Homo sapiens: one gene and its partners. The protein of the gene in region 4 purifies or fractionates together with the protein of the main gene of each other region. This does not show direct contact. Each region holds a gene or a part of one and is shown on either strand. Other genes may lie near its edges. The genes, in order: PRR11, IARS2, MYO5C, CALD1, TRAP1, SRGAP2B and SPTBN2.

Region 1 (3,500 bases), on a different chromosome or scaffold from region 4:
AAGTTCTAATTTTTTTTTTTTTTGGAGACAGAGTCTTGCTCTATTGCCCAGGCTGGAGTGCAGTGGTGCAATCTTTGCTCACTGCAAGCTCTGCCTTCCGGGTTCACGCCATTCTTCTGCCTCAGCCTCCCGAGTAGCTGGGACTACAGGCGCCCACCACCACACCTGGCTAATTTTTTGTATTTTTAATAGAGACAAGGTTTCACCGTGTTAGCAAGGATGGTCTTGATCTCCTGACCTTGTGATCCACCTGCCTCAGCCTCCCAAAGTTCTAATTTTTATATCTTTGTTTTATCAGCACTCCTGGAAAAAGTCAGATGGATCTGCGGAAACTGCTTAGAAAAGTCGATGTAGAGAGGTAATACACTCTCATATCTTTATGCCTTCTACGTCCATTTTAAAAGTTGCCATAAAATACAGCTACTGTTATTTTCAATACCTTTGCAGGAGCCCAGGTGGAACCCCTCTTACCAATAAGGAAAATATGGAAACAGGAACAGGACTGACTCCAGTGATGACGCAGGCCTTAAGGAGAAAGTTTCAGGTAACCCTTTAGGAAAAGAATATTGGTTCCTTTGCTTGAAAATAATTTGGCCTGGTGTGGTGGCTCATGACTGTAATCCTAACACTTTGGGAGGCTGAGGTGGGGAGATTGCTTGAGCCTAGCAGTTCAAGATGGGCAACATGGTGAAACTCTGTCTCTACAAAAAATACAAAAAATTAGCCAGGCGTGGTGGTGCATGCCTGTAGTTCCAGCTACTTGGGAAGCTGTGTTGGAGGATCACTTGAGCCCAGGAGGTCAAGGCTGCAGTGAGCTGTGATTGCACCACTGCACTCCAGTCTGGGTGACAAAGCAAGACCCTGTCTCAAATAAATAATCATAATCATAATTTATGATCATAATTTAAAGCAGCTTTCTTAGTAACAATAATTTTTAAATGGTACCGTATTTTGCAAAGTATTTTCATATTTAGGCTTCATAAAATTCTATAAAATACAGGTAGGATTGGCCGGGCACAGTGAGTGGCTCATGCCTGTAATCTCAGCACTTTGGGAGGCCGAGGTGGGCAGATCACATGAGGCCAGGAGTTTGAGACCAGCGTGGCCAACATGACAAAACCCTGTCTCCACTAAAAAAATACAAAAATGGCCGGGCACGGTGGCTCACGCCTGTAATCCCAGCACTTTGGAAGGCCGAGGCAGGTGAATCATGAGCTCAGGAGTTTGAGACCAGCCTGACCAACATGGTGAAACCCCGTCTCTACCCCAAATACAAAAATTAGCAAGGTGTGGTGGCGGATGCCTGTAGTCCCAGCTACTCGGGAGGCTGAGGCAGGAGAATCACTTGAACCTGGGAGGCAGAGGTTGCAGTGAGCCAAGATTGTGCCACTGAACTCCAGCCTGGGTGACAGAGCGAGACTTAGTCTCAAAAAAAAAAAAAATTAGCCATGTATGGTGACTCGTGCCTGTAATCCCGGCTACTTGGGTGGCTAAGGCATGAGAATCGCTTGAACCCAGGAGACGGAGGTTGCAGTGAGCCAAGACTGCACCACTGCACTCCAGCCTGGGTGACGGAGTGAGACCCTGTCTCAAAAAAAGAAAAAAAAGAACTATAGGTAGGATTATCATGTCTATCTGTAAATGTCTGATTTTATTAATCCCTTTAGTACATATTTTTAGTAAATATTTACTAAGCACTTCCTATATGCCCAGCAGTGTGTTGAAGTACTGGGAATATAGTGGTAAGCAAAAACAGATACAGATTACTGTCTTGAAGCTTTCAGTCTAGTGGGGAAAATAGGCATTCATCAAATAATCCCATATTTGTATAATATCACATGGCAGTATGTGCTATGAAGGAAAGGAATGAGGTTCTGTGGGAACCCAGAGAGGAACTTGATCTAGCCTGGATGATCTAGGAGGGACTCCCTTAGGAAGTGATGATGCTTGAGGTGAGAGTCGAAGAAGGAAGAGGCATTTACTGGATAGGGTAACTGTGGGGTGGGTCCACCATGAGTGTCAGGAAGGAGAGAGTTCCAGGCAAAAAGAACAAAATTCGTAAGAGTTCCATGGGGTGAGGGATCATGGCCTATTCAAGGAACTAAGAAGTGACCAGTGTGGCTGTAACACAGAGAGGGAGCCCAATGGTGGTGAAAGACAGGGATGGAGATGTAGTTAGGAGTCAGACCCTGCAGAGTTGAAAGGAAAAGGTCTTGAGAGCTTTCTTTGTCACATTCATATACAACCACATACCCAACCCAGTAGATCAGCTGGCCCTGGTGTGACTTCTTCCAAACCCTGTTGATCTTAGTCATCTCCCTAATTGCCTCTATCATTAGATCTGTGAAGAACAGCCATCCGTCGGCTGCCCCTGCTGGAGTGCTGGAACACAGGGCTGCTGGCATCTTTGGCTTTGAAGTTTATAGTTCGTTCTCTCTCTGGATGCAGGGACATAGCAGACTCCACTGCTGACACTTTCCACCCCAATATTGTCTTCCTTTTGTTCCGTGTTTGAGAATCAGTGCTTTTTGTGGGACAATATAATTTCTCTCTTACCAATCAACTTGGTCCTACTGGGCACTATACAGCTTTCTGCGTAGTGGAGATGTGACCAGGTTCTTCTTTCCTCCTCTTAGAGCATGCTACCCCTAATCAAGTTCCTTGGTGATACCCAAAATTGTGAAGGGCAGGAGCAAAGGGACGAGGCCTCACGGGTCTTAGCCCCTTGCTTTTTCTGTTTAGCTCTAAGATCTTTGTTGTCACTGCCCCTACTTCATAGCAGGTACAGTGAGTTGAGAACTCTGGAAATGGATAAACGATAATAAATTGTAAAGCCACATATTGAACAACAACAAAAATCACAGATAAGACCTATGGCATATGTTGTGCTGCCAAAATCTACTCAGGAGGAGGATGTCTAGTTAAAATTGTTGTTAGATATAGATGACTTATCCCACCCAACCCTTAGGCTTCTTTTTTTCTTAAACTGTGAAGCAACTGTATCAGGTTTTGCATTGGCTTCAGGTATCAGAAATCTGACTATAGTGGTTTAATCAAATAGGGACATGGCAGAGTGTAGTGGCTCATACCTGTAATCCCAGTGCTTTGGGAGGCTAAGGCCGGAAAGTCGCTTGAGGCCAGGAGTTTGAAACCATCCTGGGCGATATAGCAAGACTCTGCCTTGACAAATAAATAAATAAATTAGGACTTTTTTTTTTAATATATACAACTAACTCATTTATTTTATTTTATTTTAATTTTTTTTGAGACGGAGTCTCGCTCTGTCGCCCAGGCTGGAGTACAATGGCGCAATCTTGGCTCGCTGCAAGCTCTGCCTCCTGGGTTCACACCATTCTCCTGCCTCAGCCTCCCGAATAGCTGGGACTACAGGCGCCCGCCACCACGCCCGGCTAATTTTTTGTATTTTTAGTAGAGACAGGGTTTCACCGTGTTAGCCAGGATGGTCTCGATCTCCTGACCTTGTGATCCACCTGCCTCGG
Region 2 (3,500 bases), on a different chromosome or scaffold from region 4:
AGATACCATTGTTAGAATGAGCTCAATAAAACTTCCTCCTTAACCCCTCACAAGAATGGCTAAATATTTTAATCCGGGGTATACATAATAGGAAATTTTAGAATCAATACTGGGGAACAGTGGGCAGGACTGGGCCAGTACTGGGGTACTAAGTATCAAAGCAGGGGGACACAAAAGAGGAATGGGAGCAAGTCAGCCTAACATAAACTTCATATACAGTGACCATTATTTATTCAAAGGACAGAAAGAAAATCTCTCTCCCTCTTCTGTCCCTAGCCCTCAGTTCCCAAGATCATCAGGTAAGATAGTTTTAAGAGCGGGCTTAGAAACTTGGCAATTGTTTTTATTATTTCCATAGAAAGATGTATTCCAAGTATATATCTACCTTTAGAATAAACCCAGTCCACTGGAAAGTTGGAGATGACCTATAATTATTCAATTCTCCAGATGTTACTTGTTACTTTCATCTCCTTCTTACCTTCTAAGTTGATGAGGAATTTCCCTTTAAGCTCGATTACATCTGCAGTCATCTCTCGTGGTTCCTGAGCCAGTAAAGTTGACTCAGAAGCCATCATTAATTCATTCAACTGAGAGGTGCTGGAAGTCTCTTCAGACTGCAGCATCTGGAAGGAAGCATGTGAAAGTTACAGTTTATGTTAAATTTGTACCATAAACTGAGGTTATAAAAAGAAACACTATAAAATCTCACGTTTAGAGAGGAACCTTCTGGTATACCATTGCATCCTGAGCAAACATCACTAAATGTATCAATCCTAATTAGCATAAAAGGTTTTAACTAAATATTTCCATCAACAGTATTTATTGAGAATGCCAGGCACTTCACTTTGCTAGATCCTAAGATGTCTCTTACTTCTAATTGTCACATACATACACACAAAAAAAACCTATATGGTGTTTATTATCCTCACTTTACAAATGAAGAAACAAGCAAAGAGAGGTTAACTTGCCCAAGATTCTCAACCCATACGTGGTGGAACTGCAGGTCAAGCCCAGGTCTGTCAGCCTCAAAGCCTTTTTTTTTTTTTTTCATGTATCATTGGGTGAGGGGCTAAAATACTATCTCAACAGGTACCAGCTTTTAGTAATGTATACTGATAGTGGCAATCTGAACAATACGCAGAACACTTATGAAGTAGACTGAATTTGTCTGATGAACACATTTTTCTCTGTAATTTTGATCTTCAAAGTGAGTTTGTAAGCTAACCAACATAGACATTCCTTTAAAAATTAAAGCCCATGAGAAATAAGAGACTCAAAGAGATTAATTTGGTTTTAACAAGTTTATGCAATTAGTAATGGATAGAACCAGGACTCCATCTTACAGCTACTTGGTATGATTCCTAAGGAAAATACATTCATGTTTTTGAAAATCCCAAAGTATTTTTTCCAATAAAATTGATCCAAACAAGCTGTTCTTCTTTTCAGTTCATTACTTAGAAAGACTGAAGACAAAGGAAACACAGTATGTAGGAAAAAAGGCCAGGACTAGGCTGTGTTACCCTGTCTAGGTCACAGCTTCAGCAGTCCTCACTTCCTCACTTGTAAAATGAACAGCTTCCCAAGTTTTAAATTTTAAAATGGGAAAATCTCATCTATTATACCTACTAGCTATTTCAAGCTCAAATCTTAATCTTGCTAATTACATCATTAAAAATTTAAATTGAGCTTACCATACAAAATAAGATGGATGTTTTTTAGAAAACTGACACTAATAAAACTTTTAAAAAATAGCTCTTCCACCGTCTTTCTGCACCACCACAATGGTGCGCATGAATGTCCTGGCTGATGCTCTCAAGAGCATCAACAATGCCAAAAAGAGAGGCAAAAGCCAGGTGCTTATTAGGCCGTGCTCCAAAGTCATCATCCTGTTTCTCACCGTGATGATGAAGCATGGTTACATTGGCAAATTTGAAATCACTGATGGTCACAGAGCTGGGAAAATTGTTGTGAACCTCACAGGCAGGCTAAACAAGTGTGGAGACATCAGCCCCAGATTTGATGTGCAAAGCAAAGATCTAGAAAAATGGCAAAATAATCTGCTTCCATCCCGCCAGTTTGGTTTCATTGTACTGACAACCTCAGCTGGCATCATGGACCATGAAGAAGCAAGATGAAAACACACAGGAGGGAAAATCCTGGGATTCTTTTTCTAGGGATGTAATACATATATTTACAAATAAAATGCCCCGTGGAAAAAAAATTATATTCATTGCCAATTCTCTTCTTAAGCATTTAGACTGGAGAAAAATCACATCATTATGTTAAGCTATAAGCCAATCTGGCCAATCAACCCCTAAAAATCCCAAGAATAAAATTCTGATGGCCCTTCTAGAAATAAAAATAGGATAAATGCTTTGAAATATATGTGGTAACTTGCTGGAGAAAATGAATTTTCTCCAGATTTCACAAAATAAAAATGGAAACTCTTTTTGGGTTTGTTTTGAATCTGGTCCAGATGGATGAAATTCTCAGGAAACCTGACCCTTAATACAAAACTCCCATTTTTTATACATTCAAAGACGATCGCGATCAATTTATATGTCCCCTGTCTTCTAAATAGTCCTGAGGCCTTTTGTTTGAAACAGAACTTTATCTATTCCTTCCCTATCCCTACACAGTAATATGTATGTGTTACATGCACAGAACACGTTTTACAAGACATGGAAAAGAATATGGTGAAATAGGAAACAAAAGAATCAGTGATGATATCAGGATTAGAAGACGGAAACCCTAATTTCTAAATTAATTTTTTTTTAATTTAGACACTTTTTTTTAAATGTGCATGACTTTGCTTAATTTATTAAAAGATATTTAAAAGTGAAAAAGTATGTGAAAAGGAACATAATAGAATAATTGCATAGTAAAGTTACACATAACCCAATGTTATTTGATTAATTTAGACACATTTTAAAAGCAAATTTCAGGCAAAGCTCTATGATACTAACACCATTTCAAAAGGTACATATTGCTGCATACCTCTATTATCTCAAAAAGCAGTCCAGGTTCTATCACAGTGATAACCTTGTACTCAGCTGCATTTTTGCCAGGGATGCTTCCAAGAAATGAGTCTCGCATTGCACACGCACTCTCCACAGCTTCTTCCAACCCGGGCTTTTTCCAGATAGAACTAGTACTAATCCACCCAGTACGGAAAACACTCTTGGGCTCTTCAGAAGAACAAAAATAGTAAACTGCTTTACAAACATCCTAAACTGTATATGAAGCTCTAACCATTAAATAGTTACCATTAATGGGAAATAAGAATTGTTATTTATGGTAATCAAGTGATGAAATATTATGGATCCATCCTAATTATTTACAAAACATTTATATCAGCATTGGAAAATCTTTGTTATATTTAAACAAAAGAGAAAATATATAATAAGATCTCAAAGAAAAAAAGGATGCTTAGAAAAAAATAAATAGAAATATCCCAATATTAACAGCTATCAGGAGTAACATTATAAGTGACTTCCCCC
Region 3 (3,500 bases), on a different chromosome or scaffold from region 4:
TCGTCATACTTCCACCTCCAAGGCAGCACGCACTGGAGCAAACCACGCTCTTGCACAATAACATGGTTTATTCAGTTCTCTGCTGTCTGGGAGTATTAGTGTTCTGTCCACAACAGTAGGACATGCTGATAAACCACAGTCACGGACTGAAACCTTTCATAATAGGTGTTTATGCATGAGGTTAACTTTTCTTCCTATTGAGTAACTTAACAAGGTTGGGCTGCTTTTTACCGTGATGTAAGCAGTAAATTATTTCAGAGCCATGTTTGATCTCTAGCTTTGTTTCCTAGTTCCGCAGCTCTCTGTACTTGCTCATGGAGACCCTCAATGCGACGACGCCCCACTACGTTCGATGCATCAAGCCAAATGATGAGAAGTTACCCTTTGAGTAAGTGTTCTTATGCAACACACAGCGAAGACGTGGGAAGGCAGTTTCTGCCATAAAGTTGGAGAATTTGCTTCCAATTGTCTTGAGATTACCCTGTTTCTGGGTTTTTTTTTAATGATTCAGAACAATGCTGCCCTTTACATAAAATGTTAGCTCAGCCCCTCTGGTTAAACCCCCTCATCTCCAGGGCTAAGCAAAAGGGCTAGATTTGAAAGAATCTTCTACAACTAAAGTTTTTGCAACTTGAACCTTTTACTTGATTAAAAGAAGAATGAGTATGTGTGTTTGTAGAAGGTCATAGAAGGTCAGAACATTTGTCCTCAGACATGATGGCATGAGGCATTATTCTTGTTCTCTGGGACCCATGGAGGAGACCCAAAGCTTGTGAATATAAGGTGTAACAAGTCCCTTGTAGCTTGCTAGAGCTGAAAGAGGTGCCTAAAGGGGGATGAGCTGTCTATGGAGGTGGTGAGTGTGTGTATGGGTCACCAGATGGGTGAGACCTAAGCTGCAGAGCTACCTGTTGGGTGTTCTGTAGAGGAAATTCAAGCATCAGTGGGTGCTTGGGCCAGGCGAGCTAGCATATTTCTTTCCACCTGGTTGTCGTTTGAAGCTCACCTCAAAGGCCAGTTCCCCCATGGCCTTCTCAATGCCACCTCCATCAGAGTCAGCTGCTCCTTTCTCTATATCCCACTGCATCTTTATGGACTGTTTTGCAGAGGTGCTATTTTTCTTGGTCATGCAATAGAAACTTATTAAGTATCTGCTGGGTACCTGGCATAGGGTCACAGTCTAGCCAGGTCTGCTGTGCCTGTTTATGGGCATGTTGAGCAATTACGATGCCTCAACACATAATATCATTGTCTTTTTAAAGATTTGACTCCAAAAGAATTGTTCAGCAGCTGCGAGCCTGCGGCGTTTTAGAAACGATTCGCATTAGTGCACAGAGCTACCCTTCCAGGTATGTTGTCCGTCCTTGTCTTGGAGGGAAAAGTACCTGACATCAGAGCTATGCTGAGAACCAAGGACATGGCTGCCATGATTTTTGTCACATACTTTTGGCTTCTGTAAAGTGCCCCCAAGATTTTCCCACTGCCCTGTGGAAGTCCAGAAGAGGTTGAGAAATAGGCTTTGTAGGGGTCGGAGGTCAACACCACCTTCTCACCCCATCACTGCATCTCGGCTGCTGGTGGTGGCCCCACCGCCTCCCCCGTGTACTAGGGAAGACGCTGAGTGGGAGAAAGAGCACAATTGCTGGGGCAGACAGGAGTGCTCAGGGTGGTCTTGGTAGTGTCCCAGGCAGGCAGGGTATCAAAGATCAGTGCCTTTATCCTCAGGACAGATTGCACCACCCCCGCCCTATGACAACAGTGGCAGGTAAGGCAGCGGAGTCCCCAGACACAATGTGCTTCCTCTGACACTCCTGGCTTTGATCCCCTTTGATTTTCCAGGTGGACATACATCGAGTTCTACAGTCGCTACGGCATTCTCATGACCAAGCAAGAGCTTTCCTTCAGCGATAAAAAGGAGGTGTGCAAGGTGGTTTTACACAGACTCATCCAGGTCAGTTTCCCCACCTCCTGGGATCATGGTCTCCTTCCTGGAAGCACATCTCCCAAACATGCTGTTTCATCTTTGTCTTGAATGCTCAGGACTGTAATCATGAACACCTGAAAGGAAAGAAAATGTGCCCTGAGCATTTGTCTGCTGAAGAGACCATAGCAGAGTGCTCAGTGGGCCATGAGTCCCCGTTAGGGACCCACATCCGAACTCCGGCCTCCCCAGTGTCCTCGTATCCTGTTTAGCTCTCCCACGATCTAACCCAGTCCTCTGTGGACCAGGCTTATAGGATATGGTCAACTGGGGTTGTCACCAAGCCACATGGGCTCCAGGCATGGTGCCTTGTGTGGATTGACATCATTGCTGCAGCGATGAGTTGTGATGGGAAAGAGATGGGGAGTTATAAGGTCCAGCAAAGGGGATGGTGAAGAGAACCCAAAATGGAGACAGAAAACCAAACTTCCCCAGTTTCTTCTACTCCAATGTGGAGACCACGAGAGAGTGGCTGAAGTTCTCTGGCAGCCCAACTGAGAATCGCCGCAAATGACACTCACTCCCCTTCTCACCCACAAATGGATTCCTCAGCCTAAGTCCCATTTCTTCCTCCAGGGTAATTTTAAACAAACAACTCAAAGTATACATTTCTAGATCATGATGTGAGTTTTCTGCCTTAAATGTCAAAATCACAATATTTCTGGCACCTTTGAATCCCTAAAGCTCTTTTCCAAATACTGTATTATAGAAAATCTGACAGATTTTAATTCTAACTATATCATTTTTCTCTTCCAGGATTCTAATCAGTACCAGTTTGGTAAAACCAAAATTTTCTTCAGAGCAGGACAAGTGGCTTATTTAGAGAAACTTCGATTGGATAAACTGAGGCAGAGTTGTGTTATGGTACAAAAGCACATGCGTGGCTGGCTCCAGAGGAAAAAATTCCTCCGAGAGAGACGAGCCGCCCTGATAATCCAGCAGTACTTCCGGGGTCAGCAAACTGTGAGGTATGTTGGAATCAAGGAACACATGTGGAACTGTGGGGCTTTCTGTGCTGATCATCTCCGGCGGGGAGGACTCATCAAGGACAAGGGACCTTTCTCCTGTGACCCAGGGTGCAGACGTGCATGGGTCCCCTTTGTGGTCGTGAGCATTAGGGCAAGAAAGGTCCGTCTCTCAGGGGCAGGTAGTGCTGGCTCTGCCTGGTGTCTGTGTGGTGAGCCGACACCCAGGGCCCTGCAGGGAGGAAGCGCTGGTGAGAGTGTTACTAAGGAGAGTCAGGGTTCCGGAAGCTCAGGGAGAGGCCCGGGGCCCCTTTCCTATGGGAACTGAAAATGCATAAGATCAGCAAGGCCCTAGTGAAGATCCAAAGGACAGATGTCAAGAATAGCCAGCGACCAGCCTGCCAGCAACAGGTGGGGTGCACCATGGCAGAGGGGGTCCCTGCAAGGCCTGGCAGCAAACCAATCACAGAACCCCTAAGCAGGAAGACCACAGCAGCCCCAGCCAAGCCAAGGGCTGAGGGGAGGGTGGTCCACCAGCTGCGCTGATCCTACCT
Region 4 (3,298 bases):
ATGTGACAACACTGGCAATGAGAAGGAGGATGGAGGGACAATCGATAGTTACTTTTTTTTTGAGACAGGGTCTTGCTTTGTCACCTAGGCTGGAGTGCAGTGGTGCTATCAGGGCTCACTGTAGCCTCGACCTCCTGGGCTCAAGCGATCCTCCTGCCTCAGGCTCCCAAGTATCTGGGACTACAGGCATATGCCACCATGCCTGGCTTTTTAATTTTTTTTGTACAGAAAGGGGTCTTGCTATGTTGCCCAGGCTGGTCTTGAACTCCTGGGCTCAAGCAATCCTCCTGCTTCCCAAAGTGCTGGGATTAGAGGCGTGAGCCACTGTGCCTGGACGATAGTTTCTTTTAGGAAGGATTTGCAAAATCCCTCTTCAACCTTTTCCATACGTGTTAGGTCAGTTGTCAACATAAGACCAATTTTCTATATTTTATTAGGTAATTTAAAAATATGAAAATGCTTTTCTTCTTTAAAGAGTGAAACCAAGACTCAACCTGAAATACAGGTTTTACTGTGCCATAATCTTTATTATAATAGACATACCTCTCACTATCAATATTGTACATAAAAATAAGTGAGAAAAAGACATTTTGCAGGAAGGAATTCCATTTATTGTGGATGCATTTTCACAATATATGTTTATTGGAGCGATCCATTATCAGTGAAAAGTATCAAGTGTTTATAAAATTTTTAGGAATGGCAGATTCACAGAACATGCTAGTCAGCTTGCAGTTTTACCTCGTAAAGATAACAGAGAATTATAGTCAAACCAGTAAACAAGGAATTTACTTTTCAAAAGATTAAATCCAAACTGAACAAAATTCTACCCTAAAACTTACTCCATCCAAATATTGGAATAAAAGTCAGCAGTGATACATTCTCTTCTGAACTTTAGATTTTCTAGAAAAATATGTAATAGTGATCAGGAGGAGCTCTTGTTCAAAAGTACAACAAAGCAATGTTACCTTACCATAGGCCTTAATTCAAACTTTGATCCATTTCACTCCAATGACGGGAGTCAATGCTACCTGGGACACTTGTATTTGTAAATTCTGATTTAGCTTATTGTAGACTTGTGCCTACTTTGTCATGAGGGTTTGACTTCTGCATTCTTCATGGCTTTCCTTCCTTTGGCTTAGGTTTGCTAAAGCTAGAAGATTCAATTGCTCTTTACAGACTTATGAGGAAGATAGACTTTGTAACGCAGATGTCACTTCTCATGCCAGCCCTGCCCTGGTTAGCTCTTCTGGAGGAATACTGCAGATAAGAAAATAGTTATTTGGGAGGCTCCCTCAGTGTGGTAGGAATTGAGACTAACACAATTTTGGTTAAGTCCACTGAGGTATGAGTTTATAGAACTCCACTGTATGTATCCAGCTATACTAGAACATTTTGCCAAGACACTGGAGGACTCTTTCATTATCTACTGTGAAGAATAAAGACTTAGAGGCTATATAATAAGTTCTGGATTGTGTGTGTAAAAATCATGAGTTAAAAAAGACTTGGGGGAGAAAGTAAAACTAGTAGAAGTTACATATAATTTTGAAATTTCACCACATTGTCAACTTACTACAGGTATCAATGACAAATAAAAGTAGAAAAGTTTGAAGAAATGCTTCAGAGTATATAAAGATCAAAGTACTGTCATGACTCCTCAACACTGGATTTTGCTCACTTTACTTCTCTGCTTCTAGACATTTAGCCAAAGGTAGTCTTTGTTGAGACTCATACATGGAATTTCTGTCTGTACAATATTGGCACTAAATTTCTTGTCTTTCAATTTTAGAAAAGGAAGAGACCTTATGACCTATTGTGAACTTCATTGTTTCTAATAAGTAGGCTTTGAGCTTGGTCGAGATGATAGCATTAATAAAATTCACACTGGACTTCAAGAATGCATTTAATTATAAACTAAATACTATGTCTTTTAGAAAATTTCAACTCCTTCTAACAGTTCTAATCTCTCTTCTTTTCAATACTTTCTTCTTATAGGTCATCAGGCATTGAAAACATATTGATACCTATCTGCCATGTTTCTGTTGGCAAATATAAAATATTAATATAGTGTGATTTTTTAATTTTTCAAAAGCTGTGATATTGGCTAGTTACAATGACATACTACTAAATATAATAGTCTAGCACATAAAAAAGCATTCTACCATTAGTGTGTTTGTATATGTGTATGCACATACATACATAATTGAGTTATCTAAAATGTGGTTCAGGCTACTATCACTACTAAAGAAATCCACAAAACAACCAACCTAAAAAATCAGTACCACTGTCAGCTAACATAATAATGTAATTTAGATATGAATCATCAGCATGAAAAAAAGTAATACCTTAACAGTACATTTCTTTTTTTTTTTTAAAGACAACCATTATTGCAGTATTTCAAATCTGAAATGGGTTACTTTCAAAAAGTGTTACAATTGCCTACTAAGATAATTTCTTCCATGCTTTATTATAAAGTGCAGAAACAACATGACTTCTGTATTTAAAAAAACAAAAACTACGGTTCATTTTTCTAGATACTGCACACATTCCGCAGGCAATTTTAAACTTGGATCTTCTGTTGACTTCAGATGTGGTTGGTATCACTGCTCAGATACAGAGTTATGATGATCAGTAGAAAAGTCTCTATTTCACAGCATGGGTTTCTTTAGAAACAGGCTCCTGTGCAAAGGCAGTACTTTTACCATGAACATCTCTAGACTGTGATTATTAAATATAGTGATAATATACATGGGTTTACTGGGATATTGAAAAATAAAAGATAATGAACCCAATTTAGTAAATCAACATAAATACAAAACAGAGCGAATTAGCCCTCTACAACTGAGCTCGTCCTGCGTCTTGAGCTTGGGTTCTTTCTGGAACTGTCTCAAACCTGCCAAGAGAAGAGAACTTGAAATTGACAGCCTGTAGTGTGAAACTGACAGCCTGCAGTGTTTCAGGCAGATGGTTTTTATAGTCAGAAGAAAAATGAATAATAGTATGGCAGGAATAAATATTTATGAAAGGGAGGATTATTATCGGCATTCCATTCAAATATGATCTTTTATTTTACTTTTTATTTTTTTGAGATGGAATCTTGCTCTGTCACCCAGGCTGGAGTGCAGTGGTGTGATCTCAGCTCACTGCAACCTCTGCCTCCCAGATTCAAGTGATTCTCCCATCTCAGCCTCCTGAGTAGCTGGGGATTACGGGCATACACCACCACGCCCGGCTAATTTTTGTATTTTTGGTAGAGACGGGGTTTCCCTATATGTTGGCCAGGCTGATCTCAAACTCCTGA
Region 5 (3,500 bases), on a different chromosome or scaffold from region 4:
CTGGGTGTGCCTGTGGTCCCAGCTACCCAAGAGGCTGAAGTGGGAGGCTCCCTTAAGCCTTGAGAAGTCGAGGCTGCAGTGAGCTGTGATCACGCCACTGCACTACAGTCTGGGTGACAGAGTGACAGTGTCTCAAAAAAAAAAATATATATATATATATATATATACACACACACATATAAAAGAAATTAATTTTGAGATAGCTAAATTAAATGCCATATTAAGAGCAGGAGGCTATTCAGCAATGCTGCTGAGAAGAAGACAGAAGGACGTGGGTCCTTCTAATGTAACTATGTGTGTCGGGTTAGTGATATGCACCTCGAAGGAGAAATTAAGACAGCACATTGCCATGTTAGTTCACACTTGCCAGTATTTCAGCATTTGTCAGGCAATGGAATGTTCAAGCGAATTTTCCACGAGGCTGACTTTAAAACATTTCATTTTAACCATTATGATGAGAAGTCTTTCTAGAACACTCCATCATTTGATGGCCCATGACTGAACCTCTCTTGGATGTTTTCAGGGTCATTATTACGGGTGTTAATGTTTGGTCTTCTGTTTTAATATGTAGGCTCCCGTAGGGCCATTGAAATGTGAAGAATCCTTCGTCTATGAAGTGTCCCCACATCAAAACTGCATTGTGAGTGTTTATATTTTTGGCCTCTCTTACTGTGGCCTTAACTTGCAGGTCTGTCTGGAGCCCTGTTCTCTCCTTTCCTAGTTTGCAGATGTGGCTGGGAAACTTGTTAGCATCAAATTGTTAGAATGAGATGGATTTCATATGGGGCCAGTAGTCTTCCATGAGCAAAGCTCAGGGTGAGGGCTTCAGGCCCATATTTTGACTATTCCGAGGTGCCCTTTCGCTTTTTGTTCTTTTTCTTTATGTTCAAGGAGTTATGTTTCCTGATGAATGAAGTATCAGTATATCATAGTAGAGAACGATTAGACCAGGTTCTGGAACACAGGAAACCTCAAGAAACAGTGAGTGTTGAGAATGCCAGAGCTAAGAACTCAGACATTTGTGAGGGAATACAGGTCTTTCTGTTCAGAATGTTCATGTACTTAAGAATCTTCTCGCCAGGCGCGGTGGCTCACGCCTGTAATCCCAGCACTTTGGCAGGCTGAGGCGGGTGGATCACCTGAGGTTAGGAGTTTGAGACCAGCCTGACCAACATGGAGAAACCCTGTCTCTACGAAAAATACAAAACTAGCCGGGCGTGGTGGCGCATGCCTGTAATCCCAGCTACTTAGGAGGCTGAGGCAGGAGAATCGCTTGAATCTGGGAGGTGGAGGTTGTGGTGTGCCGAGATGGCGCCACTGCACTCCAGCCTGGCAACAAGAGCGAAAACTCCGTCTCACACACACACACAAAAAAAAGGGAAACAAAGGTAAACTGGGAAGGAACCGTGTGTAATCTTCCGTACCTTGCATTTTCCACTTATATTCTGGGGTTTGTTTCCTGTCGCCACAGAGCTCTGGTATTCCATAGCGAGGATGTTTTGTAATTTATGTAACCCTCTCATGGCGGACATTTAGGTTGTTGCTGAGTTTCCCCAAGATAACAGACGGCATTGCCAACAGTTTCTCACACCTTCACCAGTGCTAGAATGACAGTATTTAAAACATCTGTCAATCTGGTAGTGAAAATGCTATCTCGTTTTAAAGTGCATTTCCTTAGTTATGAGTGTGGTAAAACATCTTTTACTAGGACGTAAAGCCATTGATGTTTCTTGTTTTTGTGAATGGCCATTTTTCTCTTGAACCAATGGCCTTTTTCTTTTTTTTTTTTTTTTTTTTGAGATGGAGTTTTGCACTTGGTGCCCAGGCTGGAGTGCAGTGGCGTGATCTTGGCTCACCGTAACCTCTGCGCTAGCCCTTTTAAATAACTTTTAAAAATTGAGACAGTGTCGGGCCAGGCACGGTGGCTCACGCCTGTAATCCCAGCACTGTGGGAGGCCGAGGCGGGCGGATCATGAGGTCAGGAGATCGAGACCATCCTGGCTAACACGGTGAAACCCCATCTCTACTAAAAATACAAAAAATTATCTGGGCATGGTGGCGGGCGCCTGTAGTCCCAGCTACTTGGGAAGCTGAGGCAGGAGAATGCCGTGAACCCAGGAAGCGGAGCTTGCAGTGAGCCGCGATCGCACCACTGCACTCCAGCCTCGGCAACAGAGCAAAACTCCATCTCAAAAAAAAAAAAAAAATTGAGACAGAGTCTGACTCTGTTGCCCAGGCTGGAGTGCAGTGGCGCCATCTCACCTTACTGTAACCTCCGCCTCCCGAGGTTAAGCAGTCCTCTCGCCTCAGCCTCACAAGTAGCCGGGATTACAGGCACGCGCCACCATGCCCGGCTCATTTATTTTTATTTATTTATTTATTTATTTTGAGATGGAGTCTCGCTCCGTCGCCCAGGCTGGAGTGCAGTGGTACAATCTTGGCTCACTGCAACCTCCGTCTCCCAGGTTGAAGCATTTCTCCTGCCTCAGCCTCCCTAGTAGCTGGGACTACAGGCACCCGTCACCACGCCCGGCTAATTTTTGTATTTTTAGTAGAGATGGAATTTCACCATGTTGATCAGGCTGGTCTTGAACTCCTGACCTCATGATCCATCCGCCTCAGCCTCCCAAAGTGTTGGCATTACAGGTGTGAGCCACTGCTCCTGGCTTTCTGGCTAATTTTTGTTTTTTTTTGTATTTTTAGTAGAGACAGGGTTTTGCCATGTTGGCCAGGCTAGTCTCAAACTCTTGACCTCGGGATCTGCCCGCCCCCACCTCCCAAAGTGCTGTGATTACAGGCGTGAGCCACGGCACTAAATTTTATTTTAGAGGCAGGGTCTTGCTTTGTCATCCGGGCTGGAGTGCAGTTGTGCGATCCTGGCTCGCTGCAGGCCTGACCTCCTGGACTCAAGTGATACTCCTGCCTCATCCTCCCAAGTGGCTGTGACCTCTTCCTCCCAAGGAGCATGTGCCACCATGCCTGGCTAATTAAAAAACATTTTTTTTAGAGATGGGGTCCCACTATATTGCCCCGGCTTGTCTTGAACTCCTGGTCTCAAGTGATCCTCCTACTTCTGCCTGCCAAAGTACTGGGATTACACGCAGGAGCCGTCGTGCCTGGCCCCCAGTTTTTTTCTTAATGTGTTTGTCTTTTTTTTTTTTTTTTTTGAGTTAGAGTCTCGCTCTGTCTGTTGCCCAGGCTGGAGTGCAGTGGCACGATCTTGGCTCACTGCAGCCTTCGCTTCCCGAGTGCAAGCAAGTCTCCTGCCTCAGCCTCTGGAGTAGCTGGGATTACAGATGCCCGCTGCGACTCCCAGCTAATTTTTGTATTTTTGGTAGAGACGGGGTTTCACCATGTTGGCCAGGCTGGTCTCGAACTCCTGACCTCAGGCGATCCACCCACCTCAGCCTCCCAAAGTGCTGGGATTACAGGCATGAGCCACCTCACCCGGGTGTTTGTCTTTTGACTTAAATTTTTATGTGGTCCTTATATTTATGGCC
Region 6 (3,500 bases), on a different chromosome or scaffold from region 4:
TTTGCTCATTTGCAAACTAAGTGACCTATCCCTACTTCTTCCTGATCTTCCTGCAGAAAGTAAGACTTACTGAGACACAAGGTAAGAAGCCATCTGAGCTCAACAGAAAGCTGGATCACCCGCCCTTTTGAACCGCTTTTTGAAAGCAAATACACTGAGCCCAGAAGAAACTCACCCTTTCCTAAGAGGATGGAGATGTTTGAAGTGTCAAAGTCAAAGGCCTCTGTTTGTTTGAACATGCTGGAAAAAGCTAGGCATGAGGAGGTGGTTTCAGAGACACAATATTGTTCACACAGCTGCCAAGTGCCATTTTGATTAAATGTGTAGAGGGGAAAAAAAGCATTTCGCAAAAGCTCAAAATAGAGCACAACCTTTGGCAATGCAAGAGCAACTTCCTGGAGTTCAAGGGCAGGATGTAGCAGAGGGGGAAAGTCCAAGCCTACATTTGGCTAGGAAATGTTTGCGGCCGCCCGGACATTCTCTGCATGCTCCTTCCACCTGCTCCCAGACGGGCAGCAGCAAAAGTTTCAACAGGGAAACTAAGAGTGTGGCTTTGAGCCTCCTAAGGAAGAAACTCACCTCTTCGTTTTCAATCTTTAGAGTGGATAAGCGAGACTGCAGTTGTTGGCATCTCTGTAGCAGCTCACTCTGGACAGGCTGCTGGGCACAGAGCTGGGAAGCCTAACAAAAGAAAGCAACACCAGGTCAGAAAGAGGATACAGTCCCTTTGGCAGTTCCAGAGTTCCCATTACTGGCAATGAAACTACCCATATTCAAGGTATAAGGCTCGTGGTTTCTATGTTGAAGCAAAACCCAAAGCCAACTTGTGTGAGCCTCTTCCAGGACCAAACAGTACATGAAAGGAATGGGTAGGGGGATCTGTTTGGAGCCCGGCAGGGGTAGGTCTAGGTAGGGTCTGCAGCTCCATGGAAGGCTGAGGAGGCTGGAGAAGAGTGCCTCAGGCAGCTCCGGCTCCAGAAACACAATGCTTTGGCACAGTGAAGATTTCCTGCCAAAGGTCCAAGTGGCCACCTCTCTGGCCCCTCCCTCATCCCCCTTCATACACCAGAGTGAAAGCAGGAGAGAAGTGGGTCAGGAGGCTAACTTGCCACTGCTGGCAGCCAGCATGTGTTTACAAATCCAGGCCATGCATGAGAGCTTTGATTCAATGAGAAAGCGTGAAGCCAGGAACAAGTTCGTTGCCTATGCTTGAGGGCCCGAGAGGGTATGGAATCTGAAGGAGCTTGGCATTTTCCAAAGAGCCATCATTTTACCAGGCCTTCCCTAGATCTGTAAGAGAGGAGTCTGACCTTCCCGCAAGGATTATTGCCAATTAGCTTTCCCCTGTGTGAAGGAATGGCTGTTCCACTGTCTCCCATTGGAGATGTGGTTATGGGATGAGGTCATCCACAGTCCCCTGGATGACAGATGAGGAGCAGAAGGCTGAGAGAGTTGGGAGGCAGGACCCATGTGGAGACAGCTCCTGTCACCTTGTTACCGTTCGTCCTTTAGCCTCTTGCCTGCAGAGAGACATCTGGATAGAAATGGCCTCCTTCCTCCTCAGCAAAGAGTGGGCACATTCACATGCCCACGGACCATTCCCTTGCTTGAAAAGAAAAAACCTTTCTTCAAATGGAGGGGGCTGGGACTTGACCTTTTCCTCCATTGGCTTTTAAGCTCCCAACTGACTTGACCTCTTCCCCCAGCTGAGAGGCTGGCCTGAGCCAACTCTCAGATCCACAGAGAGCTGACTTCACTCTAACTCTTGGATAAGCAGACACAATGGAGAAAGCTCAGTGGCCAGAACCGGTTAGCGCCAAGAGTGAAATTCTCTGGCTGCCTGATGTCACCAGTCAGGCATCCAGAGTCCCACAGCCTCTGAGGGCACCAAAAATGGAGCCAAGCACCTCCTCCTAGTACATCTGAGAGCACTTGGCATCAATTCATGTGCTGTGCACCCCAGAACACCAGTTAGTGTGGGACCTTGGCCAATTTTAAGGCTTCCGGTCAAAATGCTACCCAATCTTTGGCCCTAGTTCAACGACTTCCAGGCAGCTCCCTCCTGTTGCCTCCACAATCTGCAGACAACCCACACTGATGGGGATAGACTGGCTGCAGAGGCCAAGAATGACCCACCCTCTCATCTCTTTTTATTTTCACTCATATGAAGGCTAGGCTAGAATGCGGAACCTTCACAAGCTCCAGGACTGGTCCTGGCCCCTGCCTGGCTCAGCCACTGATCAGCTATATTACATAAAGGGAGGGCCCTGGCAGAAGAGTGAGCTATTGATTTTTAAAGTAACCCAGACCTAGCAGAGAGGAATCATGGAGGGAAAAACCACCTCCAAGCCTGTTCCTTTAAGAAGTAGCAGAGCTGATGATGATGCATGCTTTGGCAGTGGTCCGCTACCAGGGTGCAAGGTAATACACTTCAGCTGCACTCCGGAGTATGGAAATAAGGCTCTGACAGGGGGAGGAGGGGGCTTGAGCACCCAGCATCTGGATTCCTCCTTTATGGAGACAAGCTGTTTGGCTCAGAAGGCAACTCAGTCACTAACACCAGAAAATGTATCACTCCACTCAGCTGGTCCCCAAGTTCCACTGATCCCTGGGAAGGAACCTCAGTGACAGCTGGAGAAGGTGCTTGGAAGGCAAGTTTGACCAGAAGCCAGGGCAGGTGAGGAATGGGGCTTCCTGAGGCTTGGTGACACCCCTTCCCCCAATTCTAATTGCACATGCTGCCATCTCACTTCTCCATCTGTTCAGACACTGACATTTCCTAAGCCACAGCAATGGAAATGAACTGTAAATGGTTTGATTTTCCCCAAGAAGGAAAGGAAGGAAACCAACTCCACATTTCTATCTCCAGGACAGCATCTCACTCTCCATAGAGGCCAACTGATGACAGCAAATCCTCTGGTTCCACTGCCACAGCTGTCATTCTGGAGTGGGGATTTCTAGAGTCTGGATGCTAATCTTAAGGGAAGCATCATTCCTGAGGAGCACACATGTTGCTGTTTTTTGGTCCCCGGCGTCCACTCCTCCTTTTTTTGGTAGCTTTGGTCTAACTGCCCTCGGTGAGGGGAACCTCCCACTCCACAACTCAGGCCACGTGCTTTGCATGGACCCAGGCATAAGCACTTTACCCAATCAAAACCAATGAGACACACAAACTTTATGGGGGCTTTGAGGAGGGAGGCAGAGACTCTTTCCACTAGATTTCAACCTACCAGGGAAGGCTGGAAATGCAGTCACCTTGCCTCCATGGGAGAATGGCCTGTCTGAGAATGGAGTTAACACACAGGAAGTAGTACAGAGACAGCAAAACAGTGTCTTGGTAAAATTCCTCCTCCTAAAGCCAACTATACCCAAAGGTCCATCTTGATCTTTTCTATCGCATAAGCCCTATACAACCTCCTTCTAATTTCACCAGTAGGAGAAATGGTGGCTCTTATCCACAGGAATGAGGTTCACTCTGACTTGTACACACAACCACACAA
Region 7 (3,500 bases), on a different chromosome or scaffold from region 4:
CGTGTCCAGGAGTTGGTCTTCCTGCCCCCAAGCTGCCTGTGAGCCTCTGCCCTCTCCCATCCCATCCCCAGTACTCCCCCACCCGCACTCACCACCCCCTCTGGACCCTTCGCCTCACAGTTATCAACACCACACTTGCAGGGGAACTCACCGGCCCTTCGGGGAAGCTGCTGTGCTCAAGTCTCTGTTGTCCCAGCAGGGGCTGCAAGGACAAGAATCTGTAAAAGGATGTGCGGGGGTGGAGGGGCTACGACTCCGATGGGGGCACAGAGGGACAGTGGGGTCACCTGTGAGGGCTCTCCATCTGTGCAGACTCCATTAACACTGGGTGCTTGTGTGGATGGTGGTGGCCGTGGCTGGGTTCTGGGATGACCAAAGGCAACACAGAATCATTAGTCCCTGGGTGGCCTGGGCTCAGCCGCCTCCTCCTACCCAGGCATCCTGGCTCTCACCCGTCCCAGGTGGTGTCAGAAGCTGTCTGGCCGCCCACCAGGTCCCCTGGAGGCACACTGGCTGTGGGTTCGGGAGCAGGCGGCTGTTTCCGCCGCTCCTCCTCCTCCCTCTTTCTCTTTCGCTCCTTCTCCCGCTCCTCTAGCTGTCAAAAAATGCTGCATTCAGCGTGTAGAAGGTTGCGTGTAAGAGGGCCAGGGAAACAGGGAGAGCTGAAATGTCTCAACTCTAATTTGATGAAATATGATAAGAGGAGAACAGAATTTGAGAAGATGGTGGGGACAAGAAACAAAGCGGGAGAAGGTGTCTCGGCATCACCCAGGGGAACTGACACCTCCTAAAGGTGTGGTGACAATGGCACTCTCAGCTCACATCTGGGGGCCACTGGTGCAGTGGGAAGAGAGAAGACATGTCTTCTCCAAGCAGAAGCCAGCACAGGTCAGGGGAGCAGGTTGGAGTGGGCATCCGGGGTCCTGTGTCCCTCACCGCAGTAAGCTTCTCCAGCGCACAGAATCGCTCCTCCCAGGCCACTGCTGACTTCTGGAAGGCCTCGTGCCGCTTGATGAGGCTCTCAACTTCGTCGACCGTGCAACCCAGCTCAGCGCTGCGCACCAGTGGCTCCTGGCTGCAGAGCCAGGCCTCTGCCATCCCTGCATCTCTTCCAAACACAAGCACCTCCAAAACTGGCAGGATCGGGGGTTGCAGGAAGATGGTGGGTCAGAGTGGCCACTGGCAGGGCACAGTGGCCATGGCAACCTCAAGAACAGGGACACAGAGAAAGCCACTGCCCCAGAGCTGTGCCAGGCAGCACGAAGATTGGGCATCGTGAGTTTCACACCCAGGGTTCCTAGTCTCACCTACTCTGGAACCCACAGGGTGCAGGATGCCCCCCACTCCCCACAGGGCCTGGGGCCCCCTTGGCAGCTCACCCAGCTGAAGCCAGTCCATCTTCTCCTGCCACTTCTCAGCTGTCTCCTGGCGCCGTGCCTGCAGCTGAGACAGCTTCTCTGAGATCTGGGGGCGGGGGGCAGAGATATGAGTTAGCACCAGGATGTGAGATCTTTCCACGGCCCCTGGGGAGTCATCCAGGGGGACAGGTGATTTCTTTCTTTCTTTCTTTTTTTTGAGACGGAGTTTCGCTCTTATCACCAAGGCTGGAATGCAGTGGCGCAATCTCAGCTCACTGCAACCTCCACCTCCCAGGTTCAAGCAATTCTCCTGCCTCAGCCTCCGAGTAGCTGGGATTACAGGTGCCCGCCACCACGCCCGGCTAATTTTTGTGTTTTTAGTGGAAACGGGGTTTCACCATGTTTCATCACAGCCCAGCCACACAACCCATGGAGGCCAGGCTGGTCTCGAACTCGTGACCTCAGGTGATCTGCCCGCCTGGGCCTCCCAAAGTGCTGGGATTACAGGCGTGAGCCACCATGCCTGGCCCAGGACCAGTGATTTCTGATGTCAAGAGGCAGACGGTTCTGGGGAGAGATTTCCAGAATGCGAGAAACCCGTGAATGGCACTGAGGGGAGAGAATGAAAGGTTTCTTGCAAAGAGAGAATGAGAGGAAGCAGAAAGCCACCAAGAAGTCAGCGTTCAGCACTGCACAGTGAGAATGGCCCGGCCACCCAGGCCTCACCCACCTCCTCGGCCGCATAGTGGCTCCTGGCCAGCAGCTCCTTCCCCATGTCGATGCAGGAGGAGAAGCGGTCTGCCCGGGCCTCTATCTCTGCCTTGATGCCTTGCTGGTTCTTGATGACTAGATCCGCGGAGGACACATCCCTGGGGGGAGGCAGAAACAGCATCACCTGCTGCCCACAGCCCCATCACAGCCCAGCCACACAACCCGTGGAGGCCCTGAGCCCTGGGATTCTCACCGGGGACGCTCCTGGGCATCCATCTGCAGGTTGACCTCATCCATCCAGAGCATCAGTTCCCGGACAGCCTTGAAGAAGCGGAACTTGTCTGTGGTGTCCAGCAGCAGCTGCCGGCGGGCGGCAGAGCTTCCCTGAAGCTGGGCCCAGGCCTCGGCCACGGCCTGCATGTGGCGGCCGATCTCCTCAGCCTTGTCTCCAGCGTAGGCCTTCTGGAGCCGGTGGCCGTCGTCCTGCACCTGCTGGACCTGCGGAGCCCCGGGTCAGAGTCAGGCAGAGCGGGGGACTCCAAGGAGCCGCAGCCTGCCTCAGTCCTGGCTGCCACTCTCACCTCCTGCCTGTCTCACAGCCAAAGAAGCAGGGGGAGGAGCCAGGGAGTGGGGGTGCTGGGAAAGATGAAGGCAGGGGCTGGCCACACTCTGCCCTGTTGGGTCTCATCTAGACACCTGGGCTTAACTGGGGGAGGATCTGGAAAAGAGCCATTGGCCAGTTGAACTTTCAGAGGCCTGTCTAGGATGTGATAGACCTTGGAGATTGCTAGAACGTGCTACTTAGCCTGAAAAGGGGATTCAGGCAGGGGCTGATGGGTTCTAGTGGTTGAAGGAAGGATCCATGCTTACTGAGTGTGAGCCTAGAGCTCAAGCCTGGGAAGCACTAACAGGCTGATTTAGCGCAGCATGAAGAGTCTCCTGGCCACTGGGAACCCCTGAAGACATCATGGGCTCTCAAGGGGGCTTGTCATCAAAAGTGTGAATGCAGTGGCTAGATGTCCCCTGCCAGAGATGTTTTCTTTCTTTTTGAGACGGAGTTTCGCTCTTGTTGCCCAGGCTGGAGTGCAGTGGAGGGATCTCAGCTCACTGCAACCTCCGCCTCCTGGGTTCAAGTGATTCTCCTGCCTCAGCCTCCTGAGTAGCTAGGATTACAGGCATGCGCCACCATGCCTGGCTAATTTTGTATTTTTAGTAGAGAAGGGGTTTCTCCATGTTGGTCAGGCTGGTCTCGAACTCCCAATCTCAGATGATCCGCCCTCCTCGGCCTCCCAAAGTGCTGGGATTACAGGCGAGAGCCACCGCGCCTGGCCAAACAGAGATGTTTTCTTGGAGCAATTTCCTCATCTCGAAATGGCCCTCGAAAGAGTGCCGTCCTCCCAGCATTTCTGAGCTCTACCCTAGCTCCTGGGA

What was found.
Region 1: the proteins of CALD1 (region 4) and PRR11 purify together in Homo sapiens (affinity purification with mass spectrometry; one large-scale study listed by BioGRID and IntAct). This does not show direct contact.
Region 2: the proteins of CALD1 (region 4) and IARS2 purify together in Homo sapiens (affinity purification with mass spectrometry; one large-scale study listed by BioGRID and IntAct). This does not show direct contact.
Region 3: the proteins of CALD1 (region 4) and MYO5C purify together in Homo sapiens (affinity purification with mass spectrometry; one large-scale study listed by BioGRID and IntAct). This does not show direct contact.
Region 5: the proteins of CALD1 (region 4) and TRAP1 purify together in Homo sapiens (affinity purification with mass spectrometry; one large-scale study listed by BioGRID and IntAct). This does not show direct contact.
Region 6: the proteins of CALD1 (region 4) and SRGAP2B purify together in Homo sapiens (co-immunoprecipitation; one large-scale study listed by IntAct). This does not show direct contact.
Region 7: the proteins of CALD1 (region 4) and SPTBN2 purify together in Homo sapiens (affinity purification with mass spectrometry; one large-scale study listed by BioGRID and IntAct). This does not show direct contact.

What each region holds. Positions count from the first base shown.
Region 1 is NC_000017.11:59,197,246-59,200,745, forward strand, and holds part of PRR11 (proline-rich protein 11), read left to right. Parts: intron 1-298; coding exon 299-358; intron 359-447; coding exon 448-544; intron 545-3,500. UniProt on the Homo sapiens protein: Plays a critical role in cell cycle progression.
Region 2 is NC_000001.11:220,142,632-220,146,131, reverse strand, and holds part of IARS2 (isoleucine--tRNA ligase, mitochondrial precursor), read right to left. Parts: intron 3,189-3,500; coding exon 2,998-3,188; intron 2,215-2,997; exon of another isoform or gene 1,756-2,214; intron 624-1,755; coding exon 479-623; intron 1-478.
Region 3 is NC_000015.10:52,243,805-52,247,304, reverse strand, and holds part of MYO5C (unconventional myosin-Vc), read left to right. Parts: intron 1-290; coding exon 291-388; intron 389-1,262; coding exon 1,263-1,349; intron 1,350-1,839; coding exon 1,840-1,951; intron 1,952-2,737; coding exon 2,738-2,949; intron 2,950-3,500. UniProt on the Homo sapiens protein: May be involved in transferrin trafficking. Likely to power actin-based membrane trafficking in many physiologically crucial tissues.
Region 4 is NC_000007.14:134,967,932-134,971,229, reverse strand, and holds the end of CALD1 (caldesmon), read right to left. Parts: intron 2,891-3,298; coding exon 2,885-2,890; 3' UTR 2,677-2,884; coding exon of another isoform or gene 2,641-2,676; 3' UTR 501-2,640; downstream 1-500. UniProt on the Homo sapiens protein: Actin- and myosin-binding protein implicated in the regulation of actomyosin interactions in smooth muscle and nonmuscle cells (could act as a bridge between myosin and actin filaments).
Region 5 is NC_000016.10:3,707,525-3,711,024, reverse strand, and holds part of TRAP1 (heat shock protein 75 kDa, mitochondrial isoform 1 precursor), read left to right. Parts: intron 1-622; exon of another isoform or gene 623-640; intron 641-3,500.
Region 6 is NC_000001.11:144,892,829-144,896,328, forward strand, and holds part of SRGAP2B (SLIT-ROBO Rho GTPase-activating protein 2B), read right to left. Parts: intron 682-3,500; coding exon 580-681; intron 1-579. UniProt on the Homo sapiens protein: May regulate cell migration and differentiation through interaction with and inhibition of SRGAP2. In contrast to SRGAP2C, it is not able to induce long-lasting changes in synaptic density throughout adulthood.
Region 7 is NC_000011.10:66,687,717-66,691,216, forward strand, and holds part of SPTBN2 (spectrin beta chain, non-erythrocytic 2), read right to left. Parts: intron 2,568-3,500; coding exon 2,323-2,567; intron 2,228-2,322; coding exon 2,089-2,227; intron 1,465-2,088; coding exon 1,380-1,464; intron 1,134-1,379; coding exon 937-1,133; intron 596-936; coding exon 453-595; intron 364-452; coding exon 288-363; intron 203-287; coding exon 152-202; intron 1-151. UniProt on the Homo sapiens protein: Probably plays an important role in neuronal membrane skeleton.